7 linked regions of the Homo sapiens genome follow. The protein of the gene in region 1 purifies or fractionates together with the protein of each later gene. This does not show direct contact. Each region holds a gene or a part of one and is shown in the gene's direction. Other genes may lie near its edges. The genes, in order: RNF157, MSI2, HSD17B12, RIGI, ATRNL1, MTERF3 and FASTKD2.

Evidence for each region.
Region 2: the proteins of RNF157 (region 1) and MSI2 purify together in Homo sapiens (affinity purification with mass spectrometry, with the first as the bait; one large-scale study listed by BioGRID). This does not show direct contact.
Region 3: the proteins of RNF157 (region 1) and HSD17B12 purify together in Homo sapiens (affinity purification with mass spectrometry, with the first as the bait; one large-scale study listed by BioGRID). This does not show direct contact.
Region 4: the proteins of RNF157 (region 1) and RIGI purify together in Homo sapiens (affinity purification with western blotting; one study listed by BioGRID). This does not show direct contact.
Region 5: the proteins of RNF157 (region 1) and ATRNL1 purify together in Homo sapiens (affinity purification with mass spectrometry; one large-scale study listed by BioGRID and IntAct). This does not show direct contact.
Region 6: the proteins of RNF157 (region 1) and MTERF3 purify together in Homo sapiens (affinity purification with mass spectrometry, with the first as the bait; one large-scale study listed by BioGRID). This does not show direct contact.
Region 7: the proteins of RNF157 (region 1) and FASTKD2 purify together in Homo sapiens (affinity purification with mass spectrometry, with the first as the bait; one large-scale study listed by BioGRID). This does not show direct contact.

The regions. Positions count from the first base shown.
Region 1 is NC_000017.11:76,236,976-76,242,217, reverse strand, and holds the start of RNF157 (E3 ubiquitin ligase RNF157), read left to right. Parts: upstream 1-1,724; 5' UTR 1,725-1,977; coding exon 1,978-2,065; intron 2,066-5,242. UniProt on the Homo sapiens protein: E3 ubiquitin ligase that ubiquitinates APBB1 for its degradation by the proteasome and thus prevents apoptosis and promotes survival of neurons.
Region 2 is NC_000017.11:57,678,715-57,682,614, forward strand, and holds part of MSI2 (RNA-binding protein Musashi homolog 2), read left to right. Parts: intron 1-834; coding exon of another isoform or gene 835-876; 3' UTR 877-3,900.
Region 3 is NC_000011.10:43,851,036-43,854,791, forward strand, and holds part of HSD17B12 (very-long-chain 3-oxoacyl-CoA reductase), read left to right. Parts: intron 1-3,679; coding exon 3,680-3,756. UniProt on the Homo sapiens protein: Catalyzes the second of the four reactions of the long-chain fatty acids elongation cycle. This endoplasmic reticulum-bound enzymatic process, allows the addition of two carbons to the chain of long- and very long-chain fatty acids/VLCFAs per cycle.
Region 4 is NC_000009.12:32,515,669-32,520,235, reverse strand, and holds part of RIGI (antiviral innate immune response receptor RIG-I), read left to right. Parts: intron 1-4,567.
Region 5 is NC_000010.11:115,302,273-115,306,839, forward strand, and holds part of ATRNL1 (attractin-like protein 1 isoform 1 precursor), read left to right. Parts: intron 1-4,567. UniProt on the Homo sapiens protein: May play a role in melanocortin signaling pathways that regulate energy homeostasis.
Region 6 is NC_000008.11:96,241,506-96,245,426, reverse strand, and holds part of MTERF3 (transcription termination factor 3, mitochondrial isoform 1 precursor), read left to right. Parts: intron 1-1,346; coding exon 1,347-1,508; intron 1,509-3,921.
Region 7 is NC_000002.12:206,781,952-206,786,518, forward strand, and holds part of FASTKD2 (FAST kinase domain-containing protein 2, mitochondrial), read left to right. Parts: intron 1-1,282; exon of another isoform or gene 1,283-1,357; intron 1,358-4,567. UniProt on the Homo sapiens protein: Plays an important role in assembly of the mitochondrial large ribosomal subunit.

The DNA.
Region 1 (5,242 bases):
TATTTGCATTTTACCTTTACCCAGCAGTTACAAGGTAGGGCCTGTGTGTGCTGAAAGGAGTATGGAGGAGGACACCAGTTCCCTCCCACAGGGATGACTGAAAGCCCTGGAGTAGTTAGGACCAGGGACTCTGCCAGAGAGCTCTGGTGCTTGGGAGAAGCTGCCGGGGCAGGGACTTGCCCTGTAACCCAAGCCTTCGTTAGCAGCAGCCAATATAAATGACAGGGATGTGTTCCCACCATCCTGAGGACCCTGGAGGAAACCAAGGCACTTAGCATCAGGTCTGTTGGCTGCTGCTGAAAAGACGGCAATGAAAAATACGAAATGTGCCGGGCGCGGTGGCTCACGCCTGTAATCCCAGCGCTTTGGGGGGCGGAGGTCAGGAATTGGAGACCAGTCTGGCCAGCATGGTGAAACCCCATCTCTACTAAAAGTAGAAAAATTAGCCGGGTGTGGTGGCACATGCCCGTAGTCTCAGCTACTCGGGAGGCTGAGGCAGGAGAATCCCTTGAACCCAGGAGGCGGAGGTTGCAGTGAGCTGAGATCACGCCACTGCACTCCAGCCTGGGCGACAGAGGGAGACTCCGTCTCAAAACACAGAAAAACAAAAACAAAATATAACCAGGAAAGACCTAGACTCCGTAAAATAGCTTTACAAACCTAATCAAGGGAACCAGACACCCCAAACTGTACTTCGAACACTGTTGAAAAGTTGTGAAAGTCATGTTCTAGCAGTTGAAATGTTTGCTGATCAGTCCACTCTCTCAGGAAAAAAAACACCAGACCCACAAAGAAAATAGAAGGTTTAAAACACAAATGTCTGTAATTAAGCAATGGAATGACGTCTTCCGCCGGCCCAAGCTTCCCACTGTTGTGTGTGTTTTTATCAACAGGAGCTCCCGGTTCTGCCTGGCCCGGTTCGCTTTCGCCTGCGTTGACTCTCTTGGCACTCAGGCCTTTCCAAAGTTTCCGGGGTCCCGTTTCCACGATACAGACAGAGGCTGGATGTCTTGATCTTATCCTCAGTCGATGTTCTCCTAACTTTAGGGCTACAAGGAGCCTTAAACAGCATGTATAGAGTTGGGAGCGCTTTGAATAGACGCACGTGAGAGGGAGGCGGCATCTTCCTAGCCGGTCACCAGCATTAACACGGGGCAGGAGACATGCGAATGCACCGTGGGACCCCTCTCCCTACCCCCCTGCATGAGATTTCCGAAGACCTCCGCCGGCCGACGCTGAGGGGCGGGGTTGGGAAGGCTTCCTCCAGGCGCGGGAGCAGCGGAGCGGGGACCGCCCGCTTTGGGACGCCCAGGACAATGGCGAGCGAGCTCCCGGCCAGTCCTCGCGGACCGCGGGAGGGGGCGGCTCCCTGCGCGGTAATCCGAGCCGGGATAAACAGGCGCGGAGGGGCGACGCGTCCCGGCCGGGTGCAGCGCTCGTCTCCTGGGGTCCCAGCTCCGGCCGGTCCCGCCCCGCCCCGCCGCGGGCACCCGGCCGCGCCCCCGTCCCCGTCGCGAGTCCCCGCCCACGCCCACGCCCCCGCCGCGAGGCCCTGGGCCGCGTCCACGCGCGCCGAGTCCAGCCGCGGCTCCCCGCGCGAGGCACGCGCCGCCGGCTCCTGCTGCAGTCCCGCGCTCATTGGCTGCTCCGGCGCGGGCGCTCCCGCCCCGCCTCGCCATTGGCTGGGGCCGCCGCGGTCCCCGCGCGGAGCGGCCGCTGACATCACGCGGCCTGAGGCGGCGGCGGCGCCCCCGGCCCAGACCCGCAGCCCCCTTGGCAGAGGCGCCGCCGCGGTGCCCGGCGGAGGATGGTGCGCGGCGCGCCGGGGGCTCCCCGCCGCCAGAGCCGCAGCGCCGCAGCGGAGCCGGCCGCGGCGGGCAGTCGGCCCCCGCACCGGGCGCGGGGCGGGCGGCCGCGGTGAAGCGCGGAGGGCGGCGCGGGCACCGGGGCCGGGCCGGGGCTGCAGCCGCAGCGGCCATGGGGGCCCTGACGAGCCGGCAGCACGCGGGCGTGGAGGAGGTGGACATCCCGTCTAATTCCGTGTACCGCTACCCGCCCAAGTCCGGTGAGGGCGGGCGGGCGCCGCAGCCGCGAGGAGGGAGAGGGGCAGGGGCAGGGGTCTGGGTCGGGACGGCCTGAGGGGGCCCCGCGGGTCTTCGGGGACTCAGTGGTTGCGGACGCTCCGAAACGGTCTTCGAGCGCGGGAGGTCTTCGAGAAGGCCGAGGTCTCCCCCGCCCCGGGCGAATTAGCCCAAGGGGCGTCCTGCCGGGTCTAGCAGGGTCACCGAGGGCACCGAGCCCCTCCACGGGAGGACGGGAGCGGCCTCCATTGTAATCGGCCCCGTGACGGGGACGCGTGCCCGCAGGGACCGAGGCTCCTGGGGAGCGGGGCTGCGGCGTCGTAGGCGAGGTCGGCGCCCCGCACGGACCCGGCCGGCCCGGCCCAAAGCCTACCTGCCTCGCGGGGTCCGAGGGCCGCGAGGGAGGCGACCTCGGCATCCAAACAGGCACTTGCGCCAGGTGCTATCCCTGCGCTGCCGTCTCCTGGCCTCTGGAAAGGTTAGAATTAGGTTTCTCCTGGAAAAGCTTCCATTGCCTGCTGAAGGATGGAAGCCAAACAGGCATTTGCAGTGCTGGTGCTTTTGCAGAGGCTGTCAGAAGCCGGGGGGTGGGGGGGGTGGTGGTGGTGGAAAGTAACAGAAATGTTTGGGAATCTGAGTATCAGAGTTACTCGGATTGCCCCTTTGCTAGCGTAGTGGCAAGCCTGGGTTTTGGAGTGGGACCAGCTCTGGGACAGGGCAGAGGTATTGGAAACGTATAGAAGTATGTTTGTTATTAGAATCATCCCTTCACTTAAATGTCTCTAGCCTCTGGATTGTGGTATCAGCATTGGAGGTGGAGGAGGATTTTGACAGCAAAGCAGAGAATCACAAGGTAGTTCAGTTATGTGAGCACCGGCCAGTATGAATTGCATGACCTAGCCGGTGTTTACTTTTAATTGCAAGTAGTTTTATTTTAATTAATTACTTTTAATTTTATTCTCAAGACTTCTGAGGATGAATGGCTGCGACATTCTGTCTGCTTAGGACCCGATGGAGATTTTGGTGATTTCGGAATGAGGTGTCAGAATTGGAGCAGAGCCTCGTCTCTTTTTGGTAGAATAGAGACATACTGAGATGAGCTGGTTTCTCAGCAGTGTGTCCAGTGTCTGCCAGGTGAAAGCAGGGGCCAGACGATGAACCTGCCCGCATCCCTGCAGAGTGTCTGCCAGAGCTGTGTTTCTCACTGCTTTTGTACCAAAGAATGAATCCTTGCAAAGATGAATATGGTGAAGAATTGTTTTAGAAAGGTCTAAGATAAAGCTGTGGGTCGTTAGTATTTTAATAAAGCTCTGACTGATTATGACTACATAAAATCAACGCTAACCAAGGCATAGATTTTGTTTTTTAATAGACAAAAATATTCTTAGGGCGGCATGAGGAAAACTTTTTAAAATAGACAAAAATATGCAGCAGTATTTGTGGGCTCTGTTTTTCTTAAACCACATGGCTTTTATTGATCAAAATATGGAGCATACTTTGCTGAGCTTGGAATTTTCAATAGTGTTTGCTGCCTCAGGAAAGTATTCACCGCTCTTTCATATGTGGGACTTAACATAGGTAAACCTCTGGAAGGCTGTTCCCCAAAGCATATTTGTACAAGTATGAATCTTGGGTGATGATAATAAAAAGACAATAGACCAAACCAAAACTTTTGTTAATTAGCACACTCAATAAATAATCCTCTCCTCTCTACCAGTTTTAAAAGTTTAACTGTAAAACTGTAATTCATGTTAAATCAGAAGTTATACATGAGAGAAGTCTTTATAGCAAGTGGACCACATTATTTCTGTTGAAGCTAAAACATAGAAAATAGAATCAGAACATCCTGTCTCTGTCAGCAAACCTTTGTGTATTTGAAACCTTATGTGAGCTTGCATATATGCTCTAGACGGAGGCATCGCCTTTCTTCTGATCTTTGAATTGACCTGGCTCTTTATGGGATTACAGTATTAGTCCTGAAAGGAACCGTTGACAGAGTTTGGCCATGACCACCATGCCTAGCTAATGTTTAATTTTTTTTTTTTTTTTTTGAGTCATCGTCTCTCTCTGTCACGCCCAGGCTGGAATGAAGTGGTGCAATATTGGCTTACTGCAACCTCTGCCTCTAGGGTTCAAGCAATTCTCCCGCCTCAGTCTCCCAAGTAGCTGGGATTACAGGTGTTTGCCACCACACCCGGCTAATTGTTTGTATTTTTAGTGGAGATGGGGTTTCACCATATTGGCCAGGCAAGTCTTGAACTCCTGACCTCTCAGGTGATCCGCCTGCCTCGGCCTCCCAAAGTGCTGGGATTACGGGTGTGAGCTACCACGCCCAGGCAAGTTTTTTGTAGAGACACTCTCTCACTATGTTGCCCAGGCTGGTCTTGAACTCGTGGTCTCAAGCAATCCTCCCGCCTTGGCCTCCCATTCATTTCACTGATAAGAAAATGGAGACCCAGAGAAATGAATTGGTATGGCCAGGGTCTCTCAGCCAGTTAGTGTTCTTCCTACTATACTGTCTGCCTCCACCTCTCAAGGAATTGGGTTTTGAACTTGTACTCAAAAAACAAGACTTAAAACAATCATTCCATGATTATGGAATGAAGGCTATTTCGTGTCATAATTGAAGTCCCTATAGAGGAATCAACCTGGGTTGATTTTGAGAAGTCTCCTTATCCTGAGTACTAACAGTGGAACAAAGCAAGTGGCAGAGTCAGCTTTCTCCAGATGACATACCTTGTAGTTTGAGTGTTAAGTTGAGACCACTATCTGGCTCGCTGGAAAGCGGCTAGACCTGCACTGCCGGTGGAACAGTTGTTTCGGAAAGAAGCACCATCATCTGTCCTTGTAATGACGGTCACAGTGTCCAGCTGAAATTGCTTTTTTCTTAGTATATTTAATGGAACTTCTTAGTTTTGTATGCACATTGAAACAAACATTTAAATCCTATCAAGAATGGCAGATTTCAAGTTGAGACTTGGGTTTGTAGCTTTTTTCTATCCTTAAATAGAGGTAGATAGAAATAAATAGCCTAAATTATTTAGAATTATTTATTTTTGAATAGGTAATATAGTCACACGGTTCAAACTTTAAAAGAATGAAAACGTGTACAGTGAAAGCCTTGTTCTCACCGCTGTTGTCCATCCACCTGGTTCTCCTTC
Region 2 (3,900 bases), about 19 Mb from region 1:
TCCTCCCTCATCTAAGTCTAGGACTCAATTTCCAGAGAAGGATGAAGTAACCAAGAGTGTGGTAGCAACTCACCCCCTTCCAAAATGGATTAGGTGAGCTCATAGAGTCAGATGGCTGCACCCGCAGCACTTAGGAAGGACTGGTCAAACACACCCATTGTCCCCAACCCTCTGACATTCAGCGCCATCCACAAAAGAGGAGCCCAGGCCCCCTACTCCCAGTCAATTCAGGGAGACTCAGTAAACACATCTGTGAATCCTGGGCCTGTTTTTGTTTCCTGTAACCAAAGCCGGTTATTTGTTGTATATTTTTAGTGTCATGACCTTTAGTTTTTGGTATATGATATGATCTTTTAGTGTAAGTTTGCATTTAAAAGTTATCGATGGGTATCTAATAAAGGCAAGTTTGTGGGGTTTTTTTTGTTTGTTTGTTTGTTTTTTTAACATTTAGCTTTGAAAACAGAAGTTTAAACAGAAAAAAGGTATCTCAGGTCAATGGGCAGTTTGCCCACCTGGCTGCAATCCCTGTAAGCACATTTCCCACCACTACCTCAACAACCCTATGGTACTATATCAAATCAGCAAAAGAATTGAAGCCTTGTCCTCTCCCCAGTGTCAGGTATGGTTTAGATGTCAGATTTCCCAACCTGTGATCTCAGTAAGCTTCTAGCCAGGTGATTCTCGTGCGTATTCAATAGTCCAGTGAAGTCCATCTTTGAAACTCTAGTTAAAACAGTGGAGGAAATCGCATACTTGTCTGACACTTCTTTCTCCTCCCCTCTCCCCTCCATTTTATGTTTTCTTCTGGACATCCTGGCCTTCCCTGCCCTGCAGAGCATACCTGGATGTCCAGGCAAGACTGGGCGAAGTTTCTGAGTGGCCCTTTGTTTAGGTGATGTCCTCAGACCTGGACCCCCACCAGCCTCACTCCCCATCCCAACCAGAGATGGCTCACTTCGGATCGAGGGTTGACTACATCTCATCATCTCACGAATCTGCTGTAATATAAGACAACAGCTTTTAAATGTGTATATAACCCATGATTTCGGTTTTGTTTTGTTTTGTTTTTCTTGATGGTTTCCCTCTCCCTCCCTCTCTTCCCATTCTCCTTTTAAATCTCTTTGAATCACATTTGGTAGTGATTTTGACTTAGTCCAGTAGTCACATAGCTTTAATATCTAGTTCAAAGCTAACCATAGTATAATTGTTATATTAAGGAGTTATTTTTTCTTAAAACATTTTTTTTTGCTTGTTTTGGTTCTGTTCTCACTTTTAAAGGATGCTGAGATGGTAATATGACTCTCCATATTTTGGTACCAATTCTGAGACTGTATGAATTTTCAGGTGGAACTTTAGCACACACTGAAGCAAAGTTGTGAAGTGCAGGGCGGGAGGTGGGCGTGAGCTTTCTATTTTGCGTTGTAGAAGAAGTGAGATGTAGTAAGCTAATTAACAGACTTTCTAGCAGTTCTTTTTGTGATGTCTCTTTGTTAATCTGAGTCTATCTATTTTCGGCAATAAGGTAAGGACGACAGTGTTTTGAGTGTCCTCCTTTTCTATAAGTGCTTTTTTTCTGTTGAAAGAGGTGATATTATAAGGTTTTTTGAAATTGTGAATTCTAAAAAAGAAATGTTGTAAATACAATTCCATTAACTACATAGAAACTATTAAGAAAGAGAGAATCAAAAATATTTTTGTGAGGGAGTCGGTCCCAGGCAGTTTGATGCTCTGTGGAAGGAGGCGGGAAGGGAACGTTGGCCAAGTCAGTTACTGAGATGAAGATCGCCCAGCTGCCAGGACCACCCCAGGACAAGTTAGAGCACTGTTTAGCTCCTTTGTCTGTGTGATAGACCTAAGAACTGTATTAGTGTTGTACCAGCCTATTAACCTCTTGTCTGTGCACAGCTTCAAATGTTACCGTCTAGTTAGATTTTTATTTAAAATATGAAAAACTGCTTTTCCCAAGATGTTTTTTAAAAACAAAGCTACAATTTTAATATTTAACATATTTAAAGTTTCAAAGCACACCTGTTTGGCTTGGGTGGGGGTGGGGTGGGGGGGACATTCTTTTTCAGTCTTAATTTTTAAATATTTGATCATTTTCTATTGTCCAATCATTTCAGCACCTCCAAAGGTCCCTAGGACACTTTGCCTCTCTTCTCCCCCTGCCCCCCACCCTGCTCCCACATCTGGGGGCCCATGGGCCAGGAGTGGATAAGCCTGCATTAATACAACCTTTCTCCATTCACTTTCTATTTACAAATTAGGAAAGCAACCTTTTGGTTTATATATATTTTTTTTAATACCTCAGTGCTGCAAGTATCACCAGAGAGGCTATGGAAGAATTTTTTTTTAATTTATTGTAGATGTAAACAGAATTTTAAAAATAAAAAGTATAAACATCACTGCACTGTGACTGGTGGGAAAAACTGACAGTTTCCTCTTTGCACATGTTTAACATTTGGCTGTTATAATATATGGTCCTCGGTTGGGGAAAGATACTTATGATGAAGGATATTTTTTAATTTAACTTTTTTTTAAATATTGGTAATAGGTCGGCAACAGCAACTATAGAAGTACAACTCAATAGATGGCATTAAAACATATTGTAGTGTGGATATATATTTTTTCTTTTTTAAAATGTGATATTGACGTTTTATTAATATTTTTTAAATTGTTACGTTTATAAATTTGGTACTTAAGGCACAGCCAGTATGAGACACTGAATGCGACATTTATTATAAAGAGCTGCTGCACTCCTATTTTTATAAATTTTACTAACAAAGTAGACTAATGTAGACATTCACAGACATGGTAGGGCAAAAGCATCTTCAAACTAAAGACTCCAAAATGCTAACTCAGAAAGAAAGAAAAAACCCGTTTTCAATTCTAATGAAACAGCAACAACATTTTTTTTAATTAAAAAAAAAATCATGTTCTTTGTTTTTCTAATAAAATGTTAGGTTGTTTGGTGAGGTTTTTTTGTTGTTTTTTTCCTTTCTTTGTTTCTTTTCTTTTCCCCCAAACAACCAGATTAAATGCTGAGCGCTTTTAAAATATCAAAACTTGTTCAAGTCATAAAACAACAAAACATAAGTTTTATTTAAAAAAAAAAAAAGAAAGAAAAAATAGTAAATTCCCAGAAATTCAGTGTTTAGACGAGGGAATTTAATTCCTATTTTGTCCATGTTGGTGATGTACTGTACTTCCCTTCCTTTTCTCTGCATCCCCCATCACCTCATAGAAGACTCTTTGTTGATCATTGTATGTTAATAATGTATAAAATGGCTATCTTGTAAGCGTGCTGTCCTGGTACTAGTGTAGCGACTTTTTTTCTCCTCTTTCTTCTAGTACATATTGATAGGTATAACATAATTAAGGTTTAAAAAAAATTAGACATAGTTATTCAGATTTAGGACCAGTAAGGATAGAACTTTCTCTTATTTATGAAAAAAAATGCTAATAATTTTGGGGCAGTTTTTTCCTTTAATTATTTTTTTCAATTTCAAGTTTAATTTTATTTTAGCTGATCTGATGTGGTTTCAACTAACCCAAGGTCTCACCATGTTAAAATGCCGGCGGACTCTACGGCGTTTTGTAGATCCCCCCCCCCCCACCCACTGTGAAGGGGTGCCATACTACCTTAAATGCTAATGCTAGATATGCAAAACTGGATTTTTTTAATTTATTTTTTAAAAGAGGGAGGCATGGTATATTAAAATGATTTTACTAAGAGAAAAAATATTTTTTTAAGAATGCTCAGAAGAAATTGATAATCTGTGTGAATATGTTTTAGATGTTTATATACCTTTTGAAGAGACCCAGTAGCCCATAGCACAAATCTTGTGGAAATCCGATATGTTTTAATGTGGCTACCTAGGTTTAAGGTTCACGTTAGTC
Region 3 (3,756 bases), on another chromosome or scaffold:
GGGTGACAGAGCGAGGCTCCATCTCAAGATACCAAGTTGTCTCCAGTGATTTTATTTTTTTTATTTTTATTGTTTTAAAATAGGCTGAGCAAGGAAGCACCAACAGCTTTGCTTTATGGCCTAATTAATTATTTGCCATGTGGGAATGCTAAATTTGAAGACCAGGATACTTGCCCACATCTGCAGCTCTCAAGGTCAGGTTGTTTCTGAGCTGGCAATATTTGTAATGGGAACTTGTTGAAATTGAGCAACTTGAAAAATCTGTTCTGCCCACAATTTCCTATAAAAGTATGAGTATCTTCTTGACCTGTTTCCCATAATGTTTTCCTGAGTAAGCAGGAGAAATCAACTAATTATCCCTTGTTGGGTTTTTATTTAACAGTTGAAGGGTGTACCTAGATGGCTTTTTGATATCTAAGATATTTCTTTACTTTCATATAACTTGGAATATTTATTTTTAAATCATTGGCAAGTAGCTATAAGTATGCCTGTTTAGATAGGTGCTCTTATATATGCTTCAGAATTTCTAAAATTTTGGCTTAAACATTCATATTATCAACTTCTTGGTGTAATTAATTTTCTGGATCATAGCAGTGGAAAGAGACCCCAGTACTCTTCTTCGGTGCTGTCCATAATGAAGTGTCTTTCACCAATTCATTCAATAGATATTAATTGTACCCCTGCTATGTACCAAGTACTGTTCTAAAACATTAAAATATATGAATATGACCAAGCCTTCATGGAGCTTGTGTTCTAGAAATGGATACTGCCCAGTGATTGGATTCAGTTTTCTGTACCGTTTTGCCTCCCTCCTGCCACTCTTCACACATTTCCAACATTTGAACCATCCTGAGCTATGCAGTTCCCTGAAAAACATCATGCTCTTCTGTGGCTCCTTTTCTTGGCTCCTGCTGTTCCCTTATTTGTTTACAATTAGGGAAATTCTTGCACTTCATTTAAGACTTAGCTCAAACGCTGTTTCGTCTTTGAACCCTCCACTAGGCCATGTTAACTGCCTTGATTTTAAACCATCGTGGAAATAAATATACTTTCTAGAAAAGAATTTACATTTCTTAGCTGGAAAAACATAACCCAACTTGGAATTCCTGAGTATGCATCTCTTGTCCCCACCCCTTGATCTGGGGGTTCTCTAGACTAGCTCTATGGTTTAGCTGCATGAAGAGTTAACTTGTGGCACCACCAAGTGGTTCAGTCAGGCAGTGCAACTTAATTCTCCTACAAGATCAAAGTAGTCCAATTTATACCATGTTACATACGAAGGGAGGGAAGAAGATGGCAAAAAGGATGGACGAAAGGAACAAAAAATTATAACGCAGTTGAGAGGTATAATGATTAGACCATCTCTACCTCTAGAAGCTCAAAATCTTACAATACCTTTACCAGGCTTGTGATCTATATTTGGGTTTTTTTTTTTAATCTTCACTATTTTGTGACCTTTAAACCTAATGCATAGAAATGAGAAATGGTTTGCTTATGTTCCTTCATTATGTGAGATCAGAGTATTTACATATACTCTTTCTTTCCTTACTGCTCAACTTTACTCTGGGAAATAACCTTTTCTTTACTGACCCATTGTGAGAGCCTCACTGAACTCTGCATTTCCTACTCAGTCTGAGTCGGAGATCTCACCCTAGTGTGTGCTCTCATAGACTATATCCTTGTGGCAAAATGGTCCTTAAAAGATGTGACAAAAAATTTTTTTTTCTAAGTGAGGGATAAATATATAGTGATAATCCCAATAAACAAATTCTCAGAAATCAAAAGTTACCTAATCAAAGTTGGCTCAAATATTGAAGTACTTCATACTTAGTATGAGTCTGTGGCTGCAGCAACAAGGAAAGAGGAAGATAGAGAGTGACAGCACTCCATCTGGGGTTCTTGGTTCTAATGAAGAGGCTGAGGTTTCATCTAACCTGTCAAGGAGAGTGGGTTGCATTCCTTGACTTAGACTTCGGAGTGGGAAAAATGCAAAGCACACACGTACATAAAAACCCAGAGACGGCCGGGCGCGGTGGCTCACGCCTGTAATCCCAGCACTTTGGAGGCCGAGGTGGGTGCATCACAAGGTCAGGAGATCGAGACCATCCTGGCTAACATGGTGAAACCCTGTCTCTACTAAAAATACAAAAAATTAGCCAGGCGTGGTGGCGGGCGCCTGTAGTCCCAGCTACTGGGGAGGCTGAGGCAGGAGAATGGTGTGAACCCAGGAGGCGGAACTTGTGGTGAGCAGAGATCGCGCCACTGCACTCCAGCTTGGGGACTCTCGCTGAGACTCTGTCTCAAAAAAAAAAAAAAAAAAAAAAAAAAACCAGAGACATGGGACCACTCCTTCTAGGTCTCAGCAGGACGGAAATCCATAGAATGGAACAGATCTCAATTTGATTGAAATTTTAAGATTTTGACCACCATGTGTTAGAACCATTCCTTTTCTTTAATGGAAGTGTCATTGGGCCAAGCGTGGTAGCTCACACCTGTCATCCCGACACTTGGGGAGGCTGAAGTGGGAGGATCACATGAGCCCAGAAGTTTGAGACCAGCCTGGGCAGCATGTTGAAACCTTGTCTCTACAAAAAAAATTTTAAATTAGCTGGGCATGGTGGTGCACACCTGTGGTTCCAACTACTCAGAAGGCTGAGACAGGAGGATCCCTTGAGCCCAAGAGCTCAAGGCTGCAGTGAGCTATGATCGTGCCACCGCACTCCAGCCTAAGCAACAAGCAAAACCCTGCCTCAAAAAAAAAAGAAGAAAAAGAAAAAAAGAAGTATCATTGCAGTGATACTTCACACATGTGAGATAAACAATACATTCACTCTTTGTTGAACTACCATGCCCAGGTTATTTCAAACTACAGAAGGACCTCTTGTATCATGACTCAGGACTTGTTACAATAGGGTTTCCTTATACTCTGTGTTGAATCACATCCAAAATGCAGCAAGCTTAAGCAATAAAGAACCTAACATTATTGAAGTTCCTCTAAAGGTCATGTCCAGATTTGTCACCCTACACCCATCCAGTCAGGTGTCTTTTAGTTACCCAAACAGTTTCCATATTGTTAGACTGTGTTTCTTCTAAAAAAGAAAAAAAGGGAGGTGGTTCTATCTTATCAATAAAATTGTTTATAAAACTCAGAAGTAGAATGGTGAGAAACTAGGGAAGAAAAGTAGTAACGCAAGTCTGAGAAATAAGATGTCTATTTTAGAAGGATCAAAGCTGATAGAACAAGCTTAATTAGCCATAAATTATGGAGAAAGTTGGCATTATCCCATTAGAAGAATAAAGTATCAAAGATCTCCTACTTGGTGGTTCTGTCTCAATGTTGAGTTTACTAAGTGTGAAAAGTATCCTATCCTGAATCTGTGCTCTCTGGATTATTTAATGCTTTCCTTTTTAAAGGTTCAAAAAGGTAGATTTCTGCTTATTTTTAATACTTTCTCTGGTCTCAAACTCTGTTTTATTGAGAGATTGATTTGTTACAATTTGTTTTATGGTATCATGTGTTCTATCAAGTTGGCTTTAGATAGCCACTTCTCTTTTCTTCTCTCTCTGTAAAGATACAGATGTTTCTACCACTAAGAGCAGTCAAGCACCACTGTACATTCTGAGTTTGTGGCCTTACTAATCAATGGCATGTTTTCTGGGGTGGGTGTTCCCTTTCTAGAGTGTCCTGCCATACTTCGTAGCTACAAAACTGGCTAAAATCCGGAAGCCAACTTTGGATAAGCCCTCTCCGGAGAC
Region 4 (4,567 bases), on another chromosome or scaffold:
TAGCATTCTAGTGACAAAACTGTGACCTAGAGCCTCAAAAATGTGGTAAGTCCTGTGCCAAACTTACCAAAGTAAGATAGTTAACTTTTCTTTCCATCATTAAAAAAAAAAATGGTAAATGCAAGTATCAGTTTTGGAAATTCAATATGAAGATAAATCTTTCATTTAAAAAGTATACAACAAAACAAGGACAAAGTGACAATAAGCACACAGTAATTTCTTTTCAGCTATTTTGAAAGAGCCTCATCATACATTTCCAAGATTGGTTTCTAGATAAAGTACTGACAACTGATTTAAGTGACTTACACCACTAGAATCTTCAAACTGGCATAACACTTGTATGTACATATTTTGTTTTCAAGTATACATGTGAAGGCCCATCAGTGATAAATGGCTTAGGATAAAAAAAACACTAGAAAGTCTTATAATTTTTTTTATGACTTAATCCAAGTAAATGTTATTTAATCTTAATAATAGTAAACACAACTAAATTAGTTTGAGAGAAAGCCCAATCAATATAATTTCCTTAAAGACAAAGCCAATTTTTTTCTGAATATTAAGACTTTGTACCCATATAGCAGTTTTGCCTCATTAAAGGAAAAGATCTGAAACCGCTATTGTTTATTGAATTGAATTACCTTGGAAATAAACACCACTTAAACATTTCTCTCACCTACTTTTCCAAATAACCAATAATAATGTACTATTTCTGTTCAGAACTTAGAAGAATAAACCTTTTATTATTTTTTGCCAGGAATCTTAAAGTTCTTATAGCTCTCTAGTTCATTAGAGGTAAGCAAAACCAAACAAATTTTAAAGGCTGGTGTCCACCAACAATTTTTGGAAGCTTGAAAAAGGTAGCTTAGGAACTTTGGATAAGTAGAGCAAATGATGAGATACTGGAAATGCATAGGAAACAAAATGATTATTCATGGAACCAAATAAAAGCCTTCCTTACATTAGAAACTAAAAGCCATCAATGGTTTTATTAATATGTATATATAAGTAAAACCTAAAGAAGAAGAAACAGCAAATAAATGCAAATTAAAAGAAAAAACAAACAGGAAACCAACCTGAAAATTTTCTACTCAGTTTAACTTGGAGGCTATAGTGTTACCCAGAGCCAAAAAAACACATGATGAATATTTTGTTCCTGATGCACAATTTAATGTCTTTAAGTTCACCAATACCACTATATATTTTGTGCAATTAAGAAATTCACTTTAGGCTGGGCGTGGTGGCTCAGGCCTGTAATCTCAGCACTTTGGGAGGCCAAGATGGGTGAATCACTTGAGGCCAGGAGTTTGAGACCAGCCTGGCCAACATGGTAAAACCCCATCTCTACTAAAAATACAAAAATTGGCCAGGCATGATGGCACACAACTATAATCCCAGCTACTCTGGAGGAGGCCGACCAGTAAGTATTATACTGTAATGATAGTATATCTATGCAGAAGAGCAAATACAGTGTGAAGCAATGCAAGCATGTAGGTGAAATTTGGTTGTTGCTATATCTGGCTTTTATCTGGCTTCATGGTTAACTATATTAAGAAAGGATTGCCAAACTGCCAATGTGTTTCTTTACAATATTTCTTATTTTACTTTCATCAAGACTAAGAGCTTTAACTATGAGCAGTGTTAATTAGCCAGATTTCTCCAATATTCTATCTGGTTTTAAGAGAATATTATTTAAGCCTTTTATACTTTGTATTTTCTCTGTCTGTACATAAAGGTAGACACACAAAGAAATAGGAAAGAAACTACATGACTTACACACACCATCTATGATATGCTTAGACTTTCTGATTTGTCCTGGATTTTCGTTCTTTTTCTTCTTCTTTTTTTTTTTTTAAACAGTCATTTTACTTTAGGACAAAAAAAATACCATTATAAGATGCTTTGTCATACAAAATTATTTTCTTTATAACCTTCCTTACCAAAAATACATCTTTATACTCATAACTTTCTCCACATCTCTCTCGTCTACTTGTTCTTTTCTACCTTGTTTCATAAGTAACCTTTCAAGTCCATAATTATTAATAAACTTTAGATAACTTCTGAGTTAGATAAAATTTTTTTCTGAATAAAAACACATTGTCTTTTGCACATTTTATATATAGAATTACATATGAACTAGAATTCTTATCCTTAGTAACAACCTTAAATTTCAGTAAAAACCTAGGAAGCAAGAAATCTTGAGCTGCCTAGCAGATATTAGTATTTTATAGATGAGAACCATTCCACAATTTTTAGAAACATGTTCCCCACATCATAACCTTTTCTTAATTGGAAATGACTCAAACATCCAATGATTATATTTCCGATTATGCCAAAAGTTCATTTACAGCATTTGACCATTTACATTTTATTTATTTTTAGCAGTTTATCTAGATTATTTCTGCATCATTTCCTTCTTAACCATTTTATAACCTGTGAATGTCAGGTGTTCACCTAAATAACCTTAAAATTAATACGTGGGCATTTTGATCAATAACTCAGAAGATTCAGCTGTTTTCATTAAACTAACAGCATTAAATTAGTCTTATAAAGAATTCACACAAATATTCACTGGGTTTATAGCTTTATAACCTGCTGCCAAACTCTGATACCTCAAATTATCTAGCTGAGACAAATATAAAGCCGAGACAAAAATGTATGCTGACAATTCTGAAGACATTTCTATTTTTATTTTACCAATAATTTTAAAGACAGCTTGTTTATTAAAGATTTACTGAAGTCATGTGAACTTGAAAAACACTTTGGACTTAATTTATGAGCACTCTTATTTATAAGCCAATTTGGTAGGTATAGTGTATAACATAGTTAATGTACATCTAGATAAACACATCTAAACATGTATACACACACAAAGATCCAACAGCTTTTACCTTGGAACTCTAGCCATGAGATAGCAATACAAACTCACGAATCTACAACCAAGTCCACATGGCTAAAATTTGTTTGCTCCAATCGGTAATCCAATGAAGGCTGTGAACCAGAATTTTGGGTAAAGCAGTTTCCATGGCAGTTTGATTTTTAGAAGCTAGATTCCAAAGAAACCTGGGGCCAAACAGCACTACAGAAGAACGTCATGTGGAAACTACTCACCAGGCCCAACCCTGCTTAAAACAGCGGCATAAAAGCCAGAATACATGGGACTCCACCTGGCTTTCCCATTCAACAGCCAACTCCAGATTCCAAAGAATATTGGGGCAAACGTAGTACAAAAGAATATTTGTTTGTTGAATTCTAATTTCCCATTACTATATTGACACATACAATCAACAAAACACAATCCGACTGCTGAAGCAATAGACAAGCCCGAACAGTGTCCAAACTGAAACAGTCGAGGTGCTTTTCTCTCTCAATCGGGCTTTATTAACCTGCAAACAGAAATTTCTTAGGAATTTTCCAAATTGAGAGAAGCCGATCCCACTGTCTGGTACCCAAAAAAGACACTAACTTGGCCAGACACAAACACAGAAATTACAAACACGCTCTCTAGAGTATCATACTGAGAGTCAGGGTGCTTCCCTTTCTTAGTCAGTTGGGCTGGTTTAACCTGCAAATGGAAGCTCCTTTTAAAATTTTCAAATTGAGCAGATCTTGCTGTCTGGGCCAAGAAAGGACACTCACTTATCCAGATGCCAGTGTCACATTTCAAAGGCTGTTCTTCCTAGCAATCAGGAACTCAGCTGGGGCTGGCAGCAGCAGGGCCAGAGAGACCAAAACTCACTTCCAGCCAAAATTGGGTGGGCAGTTGCTTAGGAGGGCTTCTGAGACTCCTAGACCACAGCAACCCAGCCACAAAAATCTGTTACTGAAGCACCAGGGGTTTGGCCTAGGTCCTCCTGGTAGCCACACAGAAAGCCAAACAGGGAGACAACAAGTATTGCCAGGGAAGAAGCCTTTAATTGGGAGCTGTAGCCAAGAAGATGAGAGATTAGTCTCAACTCCATCTCCCTGACCCACTAAAATTAGGGGTTTATATAGCAGGGAAGAAATGTAACTGTGTGGGAAAACAGGAACTCAGGAAGCAATCATGATGAATGAGGGGCCTGGCCTCATTGTCTGGATGTGATAATCTGGTGAATTTCAGTTTGATACTTTTTGAGAGGCCTGGTGGTCTTTTGCCTGAGAAAGGATCTCAGATAAAACAAGTGTAAGCTTCAAGTTTAAAGACCAGAAGGGTCAATTTCTGTTTTTCTGGAATAAATGTCTGTGGGACTGTGGTCAGTTTCAAGATTGCTTTTTGGAGTGTGAGTAGAAAGAGCCTGGGACGGAATCCTGTGCAAGCACTCATTTAAGAGATGAGCAGAGGAGGAAAAGAGACTGGGAAAGAGTGCCACATATGTGGGCAAGGAGGCATCACGGAAACCAAGGGAGAATGATGTGGTGGATAACATGGCTGAATGATGCTGAGAACCCAAGGTCTGTCAGAACTAAAAAAACGTTCCCTTACTTTGGCATTATTGACTTTTGGGGCCACCCACAGGACTAGTTTCTGTGGAATAGGGATGAAGGTAAAGGTATAAGATGGTTGGGAAACTAACTGCAAGAGTAGACT
Region 5 (4,567 bases), on another chromosome or scaffold:
AGCCTCTTTTCCCTGAACTGTGTGTATGTTGCAGACAGTATAACACTTCATGAGAGTGTTCACCTCAAACATCACAGATTGCTTTGGTGAGCCTTTTTAGTATCTTTTAATCTAGTGCAATTCCCATATCTTTTCCTTATATGACTTTGATATTTTTGAATAACCTATACCAATTGTTTTGGAGGTTTCTCAATTTGGATTTGTCTAATTTTTCCCTCATGATTAGATTCAGGAAAGCATTTTGGGGCAAGAATATTTTATCAATGTTGGTATATCTGCTACAAGTATAGAATGCACAGTCTTGAAATCACATAGAGTTATGTCAGCAGGGCAGTACTGGGCTTGCTATGAGTTATACTTCAGGAGAAAGATTTTGCCCCTTGCTGATCTCTCATGTTTTCTAAGGACTATAGGATAAGGCTGCACCTGAATGAATATTTAATACTGGGTACTATGTGGTGAGAGTGGCCTTGCTTACAAACACAAATGGCGTCAGAATACAGCTGCCAAGGGAATTGCATAATGCTACTGGGAGCACTTGTTAGCCTTGTAGGAACTTAAGACCGTGTGAAACTCTTTCTGCTTGGGAGAAAAAAGTGCCAATCTTAGCTAGCTTCTTCATAGCAGAGAATATGGTTTATCTTTCTGCAATCCACTCTTTGACACTGACGCTCATCAAAAATATGCCTTTTCACCTGAATTAATTGGTATGTTCAGATTTGGAACAAAAAAGTAGAAAGTTTTACTTACTCCTGCTGCTCTCATGACCTGTTTCTCAATGTTGGTTGCATTCATTCATATCCCACTCATTGGTATCTGTCCCTCTTGTAATTAATCCAGACTTTATGTCCTTTTTTTTTTGAATAATATACTTTTCAGGGGCCCAGTAGTTACCATTCTACCACCATAGAAAGCTGCAGAATCACCTGAGATAAAGTTGGTATGCAGGTTTTTTTTTTTTTTTTTTTTTGAGATGGAGTCTCACTCTGTGGCCCAGGCTGGAGTGCAGTGGCCTAATTTCAGCTCACTGCAACCTCCACCTCCCTGGTTCAAGTGATTCTCTTGCCTTAGCCTCCCAAGTAGCTGGGACTACAGGCATGTGCCACCATGCCCAGCTAATTTTTGTACTTTTTTTAGAGATGGGGTTTCACTGTTGGCCAGGCTGATCTCGAACTCCTGACCTCATGATCCACCCAGCTCGGCCTCCCAAAGTTCTGGGATTACAAGCGTGAGCCACCGCGCCCGGCCGGTATCCAAGTTTATGTCCGTTGAGGATGCTTTGATTTGAACAAAGCAAAATATCAGTTATTTGGTAAAGTCCAAACAGACAAATAAAATCAGAAGTTCTTTTGCTTCTTTTTCAGTTCCCTTCTTCTCAACATCTGAGTGTCCAGGAAGCTCACAAAGAAAAAAGGAGCAAGACTCCTTGGATTTTTTTTTCTTCCAATACTTTAACCTGCAGTAAACAGGATTTGAAATGAGTGAATCTAATTAACATGTTGGTGTGTTTGATCCAGGTTCCAAAGAAACTGTAGTTACAGTTCAGTCAAAGGAGACAAAATAACAGCCACTTGGAGTCTGGTGTATCTATTAAACTCAGGAATATGTTGTGGTTGAAATGTATTCAATGAGATAGGGAAAGCAACAGTTTCCCTCTCTATACAGGAATTCTCTCCAGGGGATCTTTATCCCGATTCTAATTCCTTTCTCCTAACAGCCCTAAGTTCTCCACTATCATCATCTCTCTTCATTTGTCATATTTGAAACTTTTAAAGGTCAAAGGTCCATTTTAGGTTTTTGCATCAGTCCACTGGTTTCCCTCTGACCCTTTCTCTCCAGGAAACAGCCACTTGGAGTTTTCCTAGGAGTGTAGGCCATAACACAGCTTGTTTCTATAACGTTCATAAGTATCTTCAGGACTTTCTTATTAGATCATTGACTTTCTTGCAGTCCCTCCATAGGAGCAGCCACTGGCAGCCTGACTGATGAAAATACAAACAACTATCCCAGCAGCAATATTTATTTTCTGCCCGTCCACTCTTCCTTCCCTCCTTTGAGCTTTCTTGTTTTTCCTCTGAGAGGCAACCCATTCTAGTTAGCAATTATAGTAATGATATGGCTCCCATGAGTGGAGGAACACCAGGGCTCTTGTCTCACGTTGAATTAGATTAAACAATACGGACACACGTGGAGTGGTTTTAAGGAGCAGAGAGTTTAATAGGCAAGAAAGAAAAGAAAAGGCAGAAGGTTCGCTCTTACAGAGACAGAGGGATGGGGGCTCCACAGCCGAAAGAGGAAACCCCAAGTGTGGTGCGTACCAGGCAGGTATATGTAGAGGCTGGAGGAGGGGGTGTCTGATTTGCATAGAGCTTAGGGGATTGGTTTGACCAGGCTTTCATTCAGGTAGCCCTCGGAAAAAAACTGGCCTTCCCACCCTAGCCTTTTAATATGCAAATGCAGGGCACCATGATGTTCTACACACATGGGGATATGTGGGGCGGCCATATTCCCAAATACATGTGGGGCAAGGGCAAGAGGACAAAGGTGGGAATCGCCATGTTGAGTGGACCCAGTTTCTAATGGCTTGCATATGCATACTAAAGGTTGCCGGCTTGGCTCTAAGAGCTGGGACTTTTCTGTTAGACAAGAAACACTTTTGGAGGTGTTTTAAAAAGAAATGAAAACTTTCCAAGGACTCCTTTTTTCTCTATCTGCCTAAAATAATTTCTTAATAACTTCTATCACAGTAACTTCATAATTCTGAGATCCCTGTTGGTGGTAAATCTAGTATGTTGAAGCCTGTAAGTGTATGGCCCTTGGACAACATGGTCACCCAGTTGATACTAGTCCTTCTTGCTCAGATGAGTCATCTTCCCATTTAGAGGTAGCCACTGCATAAGGCAATGCACGTAGAGACTTACTGACTTTCTAGGCCTTTCATCACTCTCAGTGGTCCAGTCAAATATGTATTTGGTCCATAGTGGGCACCACTGTTACTTGAAGAGCTAAGGCAAAACAGTAACACAATGCAGGCTGGAATCCCAGCTGCAGCTGTTGTGTTCATTTGTTCCTTCAGGCTCTTGGCATGAAGTGGAGAGGTATGCCTGGGATGGACATGGTTGGATGTATTATGAGTTGAGCTCCCTGTTGATATCCTTTTTTAGGGATTGTGGTAAGGAATGGGGGTGTTGTACCTGATCAAGTGGGTGGCAGTGTGGTGGTTGCAGGCATAAAATGGCCTTTGTGCATAGCAAAACATTTCAAAACTAGGAGCCAGCTGCCCAGGAGAGTTGAATACAAGAGTTGAAGACTTGTGGGGAATGAGACAATGCGCACCTTCTCCTGCCTCAATAGTCATGCTTGTCTCTCGACAAACATTATTGTTCAATGAAAGAAGCTAGACATGAAAGATTACATACTGTTTGACTACATTTAGGTATAAAGTTAAAAAATAGTCAAAACGGCACTGTATTGTTTAGAAATGCGTATTTAGGTGGTAAAACTATAGAGTAAGGCAAAAGTGTATTCTCAAAAATGTCAGCTAGAGGATGTTGCTGGGGGAAGTTTAGGGGTGCTGATTAGGAAATGAAACAAGAGAGGCAATGCTCCACTTCTAGGCTTTGTGCAGGTCCAGAGTGTGTGTTTATAGGAATTTATTAATCTTATATTTTTCTTTATGTAATTGTATGTGTGTTATATTTCACAATAAAAGAGGCTAGAAAGTAGGGAAAAACTGGTTTGTGAAAGTCTAAGCTCTTATACTCTTAACAACTTTCTAAAAATTATTTAGAATTAAGCTTATGTTGTCACAAATTTTTCTTATATCCCATTCCTTCTCATTTGTTCTACTTTTTTGTTTTTTTACAATTTTTTTTGGTGGTATAACACACATAACATAAATTTTACCATTTTAACCATTGGTAAATAATCTTTAGTAATTTCTTTCAAATAAATTGTGACATAAACTTTTGAGTCTTTGCATGTCTAAAAGTGTACTTTTCATTTTCACTTGAATGATAAAATGGCTAAATGTGGTATTCCAAATAATTTTTTCCTTGGAACCTCTTTAGCACTCAGTGTTGTGGATAAGAATTCCAATGCCAATCTAATTTTCATTCCTTTGTGGAACATCTTTTTTATCCCCCCTTTGGGAGCTTTTAAGATTTTTTTCTTTCTTGTTGGCATTCTAAAATTTTTCATTGTTTTAATTCAGTTTTTCAGTGATTGATGTGGATCTTTAAAATTAATTTTTTTTTACAGTTTTTCATTGAAGAAAAGGATTTTTAGATTTTTTAGATTTTCTCATTGGCTCTTTAAATCTGAAGAGTAGTTTGTTTCTTCATCTGCTAAAAATGTTGTGTAATGTCTTAAAATACATGTTTTCTTCTCTTTACTCTTGTTGCAAATATTAAAATAGTTGCTGGAACTTCTAGATATATCTTAATATTTCTTAACTCTGTTTGCATTTTTTGTATTTTTGTTTGCTAATATTTAGCTATTTTTCTTTTTATAATCCTTTGAGACTTTTTATTTATTTGAAATAAGTTTTTTGAGAACAATATAATTA
Region 6 (3,921 bases), on another chromosome or scaffold:
AGCAGCCAGCACATTGTTCTCCTTTGCACCTGTCCCAATTGCCAGCTCTCATTCTGTCACAGAATGTACCAGACACTCTTTACTGTCCTTCCTCCAAGAGAATAAGATAAAGCCAAGAGCAGCTGACTAGTTAGTATATAAAGCTGTAGTAGTATTTGAAATATTATATAAGGGCTGTTTTCTGAGGTGAACAGTTCAGTCATTGAAGAAATCTTTTTATTGAGCTCCTGCCCAAGCGCCATGCTGAGGAGACAGCTTCTCCTCCCAAGGAGCTTACAATCTAGTGGGGGATCAAATCCAGAGTGATGGGGGCAGTTACTTGGTGGGGGCACACAGGACACTATGAAAGCAAGTAGAGGACCCGGCCTGTGTTTGGTTGTTTAGTTCCTCATCTCTGCTTGGAATGTTGACATGTCGTTTTTCAGACAACACATATGTGGGTGTACTTGGGAGCAAAAGCTCAAAAAGCATTTTGAAGATCCTGCTGCTGAAGGATCTGTTTGGTGTTGGGCCCATGCCTCTGACCTGCAGCGCTCCCATGTCACTCATTCCCTCTTGTAATTATGGTTGCCCCTTTGGTGAGCTTCATGACCATCATGGTGTAGCTCTTTCTCAGCAGAGGGGTTTGAAATTCTGGTGACCCCAGGAGCCGGAAGCTGTAATTCCTTGAAGGCACTGGCATAGCTGTCTCCAAATTTTAAAATGTTATTTTAAGTTTAAAAGAATCATGGTCAGGCGTGGTGGCTCATGCCTGTAACCCTGGCATGGGAGGCCGAGGTGGGCAGATCACTTGAGGTCAGGAGTTTGAGACCAGCCTGGCCAACATGGTGAAACCTCATCTCTACTAAAAATACAAAAATTAGCCAGGCATGGTGGTGGGCACCTGTAATCCCAGCTACTTAGAAGGCTGAGGCAGGAGAATCACTTGAATCCAAGAAACGGAGGTTGCAGTAAGCTGAGATCGTGCCACCGCACTCCAGCCTGGATGACAAAGCGAGACTCCGTCTCAAAAAAAAAAATCATGGCCAGGCGCGGTGGCTCACACCTGTAAGCACTTCGGGAGGCCAAGGTGGGTGGATCACTTGAGGTCAGGAGTTCAAGATCAGCCTGGCCAACATGGTGAAACCCTGGCTGTACTAAAAATACAAGAATTAGCCAGGTGTGGTGGCATTCCTCTGTAGTTCCAGTTACTTGGGAGACTGAGGCAGGAGATCATGCCACTGCACTCCATCCTGGGCAACATAGCGAGCTCCATCTCAAAAAAAAAAAAAATCAGTGCAGCCTTGCCATGGTACCAAAATAACTATTTCTACATAACGATTCATAGCAAATTTACTTTCTTTTAGGTTTATCGTCTTGAACTTGGTTTTAAACATAACGAAATTCAACATATGATCACCAGAATCCCAAAGATGTTAACTGCAAATAAAATGAAACTTACCGAGACGTTTGATTTTGTGCACAATGTGATGAGCATTCCCCACCACATCATTGTCAAGTTCCCACAGGTAATGCCACTCACAGCTCTCTCTGTAAGCGCTGCCATTGCGCTTCATTTGGAGCTGCTCTCCAGCTGCATAGTTCTGTACGCTGGGAAGAGTTTACAATTTGCAGGGCGCAAATGTCCATCTCCTGAGGAGAAATCAGTGATTAGTCTCTTTCCCTGGAGTTTCTACCTAGTCCTAGTTCTGATTGTTGGAATCAGGCCAACAAATCTAATGTAGTCTCTCTTCTCTCTCATGTTTTTCTCTACTTTACTTTGGAATAGATCACTTCCCTTAAAGGTCCTTTCACTGCTACGTGTACTTTTTAGTCACAGTTTATTTAAATTCATGAATCAATAAGCCATATTGTAATGATCCCCATCCCAATATAAAAGTGATCCAGTTTGCCATCATGCCAAAGCCGTAATTATATTTTCTAAGCTAATCAAGCTTCCATATTCTTTACCTAGTGAGTGATATTATCTGCTGTTCACAAGAATATTAATCTTGAATATTGACTCTTTAAAAGCAGAAACTTTGTCTGATTTATACACTGCCAAATCCTCAGTGCCTAGAACTACACCTGGCACTAAGTAGGCACACAATTAATATTTGTTGAACAAATGAATGATTGGATTTTATCAAAGTAATCCTTTTTTCCTATTTCCTATGCAAATAGCCACTCAGTATTTATTGGATAAATGACAAACTGAATTTTTATTTAAGTGATCCCTCTACTCCATTTGCTAGAACACATGTTCCTGTTTTTGAAAAAAGATGGGTAAAAGAAATATGACCTTAATACAACTCTCAGAACTAGACTGCATTAGGTCCAGTTCCTTCACATACAGCTATATTTATTTGCCTATTATACTTCACTAGGAACGGGCCTCTAATATAGGATTTTCCTATTTTACCAAACGTAAATATACCCATTATAGAAGTGTTAGAAGCCTACAGTTTTGTGAATTTGGCTCATGGAGTAATTGTGAAATAATCTTCAACGAAAAAGAAATGACAATTTGTTTTTCCCTGGGTTGGTGGGTAATTCATTTTTCCAGTATATCACTGAGCATCCATCAGTGCTACACATTGGGCACTGAGGATACAAAAGTCAAGCAGACATGATCTCTGTTCTTGTGGAACTTATAATCGAGTGTGGAAGACAGGTTTAAAAATAGAATTGCTTTATATGATGGTAGAGTCCTAACCAGAGCTCCTACAGTGATTTAGAAGCGGTAGGAGAATTATAGAAGTAATAACAGCAATTGAGTACTTACTGTGTGCCAGCTCTATCTTTATTGCTTTATTTGTATTAACACAGTTAATTCTCACAACAACCATATGAGGTAGATGCTATTATTACCCCTATTTTACACATAAAGAACTTAAGCTTAAAGAGATTTAAGTAACCTGTCCAAGGTTACCCAAGTAACAAGGTTGGGGCAGAACCACGATTAGAACTCCAACAGTCCAGTTTAAAAACCCAAGCCCTTTACTAGGATCTGCTAGAAGTACATTTGAATTGTCTGTAGAAGAGGGAGTGGTGTTTAAAAGATGGAGAGGAGCTTTCCAAATAGAAGAAATTATAAGCTGACCAGATGCATCAAAATCACTTAAAAACACAGATTTTAGGCACCCCAAACCCTTGCCTCAGAGAAGCTCTGTTGTAGAATTGTGGCTTCCAAATTGGGATTCTCAGATTCCTAGAGTCTAGGTGGAATTATTGGGGAATAAAAACAGAAAAATAAAAAGCTTATTAATGAAAAAATACATTAACGGACAGTAAGGCTGTGAATGGGCTGATATAGACTTTACATTTTTGGCTGGTGTTTAAATCTCAGTGGCATGGAACTAATTTTCTCATGTAGATAATATTCCTGGTTGGCAGATCTGACTTACGATTAATTAAAAATGGGGAAAGAAGTATAACTTAATAACTATGATCAATTTAGTCATTTCAAAGAAGAGATCTTGGAAGGTAAAGGATAACAAAAGCAGTTTTAGGGTAATGAATGTGAAGAAATCACTAGGCTAAGGAAAGAGGTTATATTCAGGATCCCCCGAAACCTTCACTCTCCCCTTCCTCTGTGACTTTCTGTGAAGGCAAAGTTGAAGTCCACCTTAGGATTAGAGGGAACCAATAATTCTCAGGCTAGGGGCACTTTTTTTAACTCCGAAGAATTTAATATGTCATTAATAGGATGAAATTTTTGTGCCAATGGCAAAGTAGCCCCTGGTGGCCAACAACTCTCCCCCCACACCACCACATCCATAAAAAAAGAAGGGAGAAACACCGCAATCTGAGCAGTAGCTTTTGGACTTGAAAGAGTACACAACTCTCTAATGATGGAGTAACTTTGGTCCACTGGAGAAGTAAACGTATAATATCTGCTCATAAGCTAAATAAATGCTTTGAAGTGTTATTATATTTAGG
Region 7 (4,567 bases), on another chromosome or scaffold:
GCTCCACTCCTCTCATTTCCTCCTGAGGCTGAATCCTCGGGTTGCGTACCTTCTCTCAATCTCTCAGAGCTGTGCTGAGTGCAGGAAGCTGTCCACCCCTTTTCCTTTGTTCTTAACTGCTCTCAGGCATCTGAACCCTGCTGGTTTTGTTAGTATTCCACGTGAGTTTAGACAGAAATCCAGCCCCTAGGGCAGCACAGTGAAAAGCCGGATGTTGGTTGCACACTCTACTCTCTCCCTCCAAGGGAGAAGTCCTAGGCCAAGGTGATCTCCTTGGTGCTGAGCTGTGCCGGCTTTGGGGAGGGGCTGACCTGGGTAAAATGTTCTTCTTGCCTGTTTCAGTGCAACTCTTCTTGGTTTTGTTCTTGTCTGGAGTACGACAATATCTTAATTGGTTTCTGGACTTTTCATAAAGGTATTTTTGTCTATATGTCCTTGCTAAATCAGTGTTTCTGAGAAGCTGTGAGAACTGGACCTTCTTCTAGTTCAGTTTTGACCTTAACTATTCATTTGGTCTCAAGCTACTGCTTTCTATTCTTTTCATTTTAACCACAGCCATGCATTCCTACTATTAAATACAGTAATTCCTCAAATGTGCCAGCTTCTTTCATACCTCTGCTTTCTACCCAGAACATCTTTTCTTACTCTTTGGATCAGTCAGGGTTCATTAAAAATCAGAAAAGCATATAAAATGTCATTTGTTAAAACAGTGATTAAAAGCATGGACTCTAGAGCTAGCTTGCTTAGGTTTGAGTTTCAGCATTGCCATTTGTTAGCTGCTTGACTTTTGGCAAATTACTTATCTGTGCCTCAGTTTATTCACTTATTAAAATGGAGATGAGCTATGTCTAATCTCATTGGGTTGTTATTAGAATTAAATGAGTTAATCTATGTCAAGTTCTTATGACAATGCCCAGCACATAGTAATTTTTAGATTTGAAAAAAATTAGAGTGTAGGTCACAGAGGCCTTGGGGGAACAAACTAGGGCAGTTGTGAAGGTCTCAGTGGCAAGATGCACAGGCCATCTGTTTGCCATCAAATGACTTGACTCCAGCTGCTTGCTTTCCTTTTAGTTTTCCCTCCAGATTTAGATTTCTGAAAGAGAACATCTGATTGACTGAGTTTGAGTCAAATGCCCATCCCTTAGGGGCAGTTAATCAATTAAGTGGTGTCAGGCCAACTAAAAAGCAGCTTCCCACTGTACTGTCCACTGAATGGACAGACTCAGCTCATACTGCATTTCCTGTGTCTTCCCTAATTGTCACCGTCAGAGTCCCTGTGCTTGTCATGTCTTACCCAGTCTCCGGTGCAGCCTTGACAACAGGCTGCACCGGAGACTGGGTAAGACATGACAAGTTGTGTCACATCATTTGTTGTGTCAGTAAGTCTGTCTCTGCTCCTCAGTTGGTAAGCTCTCCGGAGTCCGACCCAGCTGCCTGTTTTTCTGAACTTAGTACAGGACCTGCCAAAGAGTAGACATTTAATAAAGGTCGAAAAATATCTCCCAAATTCAATCTTCCTTTACTCCCCTGGCTTCATTTTCTTCTGAGGCTGGCTCCCATTGATGCCTTGTACTTTCTAGACAAATAATATCAAGCTAAGTGGTAATTAAAACTCCAGAAACAGCCCCAGAGGGATTAAGAGAGTAAGTACTGGGCGGGTAAGAGTTTTTCAGGTGACTCCAGGCAACCTGAGAGATAACTTGTTCCAACAAAATTGTTACATTGAAAATAGAGGGGGGATAACAAAGGTAACAAAGGCTGGGAGGACATTTAATAAAATGGCAGTAGTAGAATTAGTACAGGAGGAGAATCATGAATGTTGTCTTTTTGTCTGTCTATTCTGCTTTCATTTAACCTAGTGGTTTTCAAACAGGGATGATTTTGCCTCCCAGGGGACATTTGGCAAGGTATGGAGATGGTTTTTAGTTGCCACAACAGGAGGGAGGTCTGTGCTACTGGCCTCTAGTGGACAGAGGCCAGGGGTGCCGCTAACATCCTACTATGCAGAAGATAGCCCCTCACAATAAGGAATTATCCAGCCCCGGATGTTAGTAGTGCTGAGATTGAGAAACCCTTACCTAATTCTAAGCCTCCCACCTCAACATTTCTCCAAAGGAGAAGTAGGGGCAATATGGCAGATATAGCAAGATTAATTAGTCACCATTTCCTGAATGCCCATGAATGTACAATTGCCTGGATTTGGTATTTTGAAGGCTATAAAAAAAGAAGTTTGTATTCCCTGCTCTTCCTAGACCATTTATGAGAACAACTCTGTTGTATATCCAGAGGAAGGCAGTACATGGTAGGCACCAAGTAAGTGCTTTATGGAGGAAGGAGAAAGGAAGATGGCAACTTATCTGGAGTAGCAAAGGTTTTGGAAGCAGAATAACTCAAAGTATTTGGGAAGAGAGTTGACTAGAAGAGATGGTTAGATAGGAGAGTGGTAGGAATTCTGGCTTATTGTATACCCACATGCTATACATTAATCATTATTTCATTTATGATGGCCCATCGGGGAGAGGGTGTTAAATCCAGAGTATCTTGCTGGGCTTTGAACCCAAGGAACAAATATGTAACGTTTAAGCTCTGTTGTTTTGGTCCTTTGGTTTCTTCTCTTCTTGATCTGTATTTACCACCTTATGGATAATCCCACATTTGCATCTGTGGTCATTAGTGTGCTCCTTAACTCCAGACCTGAGTCTCTGTGGGTTGCATATGGTCACTGCACATCCCAGAAGTGTCTCAAGTTCAGTAATTCTGGAAGTCAGCTATTTTTCTTGACTCATCGTTTTCCAATGACAAGCTCGTCCTCCTGTCTTCCTCATCAAAGTTTATTTGTTCGTTTAGTCAGCATTTGCCAAGCACCTGGACACTTAGGAGAAAGATGAATAAGACAGTCCTTCTTGCCAGAGGATTCTGTGTAATGGGTAAGGTAGATATGTAAATTGGCAGTTAAATATAGCATGAAAATTCGAGTGATCTAGCATATTAGTCTGTTTTCACGCAGCTGATAAAGACATACCCGAGACTGGGCACTTTACAAAAGAAAGAGGTTTAATGGACTCACAGTTCCACATGGCTGGGGAGGCCCCACAATCATGGCAGAAGATGAAAGGCACATCTCACAGGGCAGCAGACAAGAGAGACAGCCAAGCAAAAGGGGTTTCCCCTTATAAAACTATCAGATCTCGTGAGACTTATTGACTACCACAAGAAGAGTATGGGGGAAACCACCCCCATGATTCAGCTATCTACCACTGGGTCCCTCACAACACAAGGGAATTATAGGAGCTACAATTCAAAATGAGATTTGGGTGGGGACACAGCCAAACCATATCATCTAGGATATTTGGAAATAGAGGAAGGATATATCAGGATGCCAGCCTGGTGAAGAGGAGGGTCAGGGGATATCAGGCAGTGTTGCCTGGAGGGGTTGGTATCTGAGCTGATCTTAAAAGATGGAGAGATGGGGTTTTACCATGGAAAGATAAGCAGGAAAGAACATTCCAAGTGAAAGGCCCTCTATATGCAAGACCTGGAGGAAAGAAACAGCAGAGCACATGCAGGGAACAGCACACAGTTTGGGCTGCTGAAGCATGAGGTACAGGGTGAGGAGTGGGGCAAGAGAAGACCAGAGGGGGGATCATTACCCAGGCTCCCAACTTCCTTGTCCACACCATCCCCTGCCCCCGCATCCCACTGCATGTTCCAAAAGCAGTCAGTACTAATTTCAGACGTGCTGCCTTGCTATTGCGTATATGATCTGTTATATTCCTCCCATTTCATCATAATTCCTATCGTTTTCCTGGCCTTATCACAGCCCTTCATCCTCCCCAACACTTCTTCCCCTACCCATGGACCTCTCAGTTGATTTCAGTCTCATTGTTAACAAGGGCTTGTGTCCAGGCATATTTGCCCCAGCTGTTAAGAAACACTCCTCTGTACCTTCATCTCACCAGTTATTCACTATCAGGCAAGTAGCATGTGCTTTCAGGGCTGTGCTCAAATCTTCTTCCCTTATTCCATCTTTTCCACTTATTCAAATTCTCCTCCCAAAAGCTTCTGTTTATTTTCTTTCCTCTGCGAGATCACAGTACTTTGCATGTATTTCTTTTTTTATATAACTATATGTATCATATGCCCTGAGAATCAGATTGACGTGTGTTCAAAGGGTATCTACCATTTATTAGTGGTGTCACTCTGGGCAAGCGACTGCCCCTGATTTTGATCTTTTCTGTCTTCATTTGTGCTTAACCACGTTATACTGTGTACCATTAGCTGTGGGTGGTAGGATTAGGCTTGCAGTTCTTTTAACCCATAGTATTGATAACTAGATAATTTTAGTTGGTTATAAAACTGTAGTGGTGGTCCAGGCGTTATAGAAAATCTAGCATAATTATGAAAAGGTTCTGGAGCCTGACACCTTATGTTCTAATACTGCCTTTGCTACTTCCTTGTCTGTGTGTTCTTAGACAAGTTACTCAATCTCTAAGCCTGTTTACCCATTTTTTTAAATGAGGAGAATAATAGTAATACCCATGGAGTTTTTTAGTGTGAGTTAAAT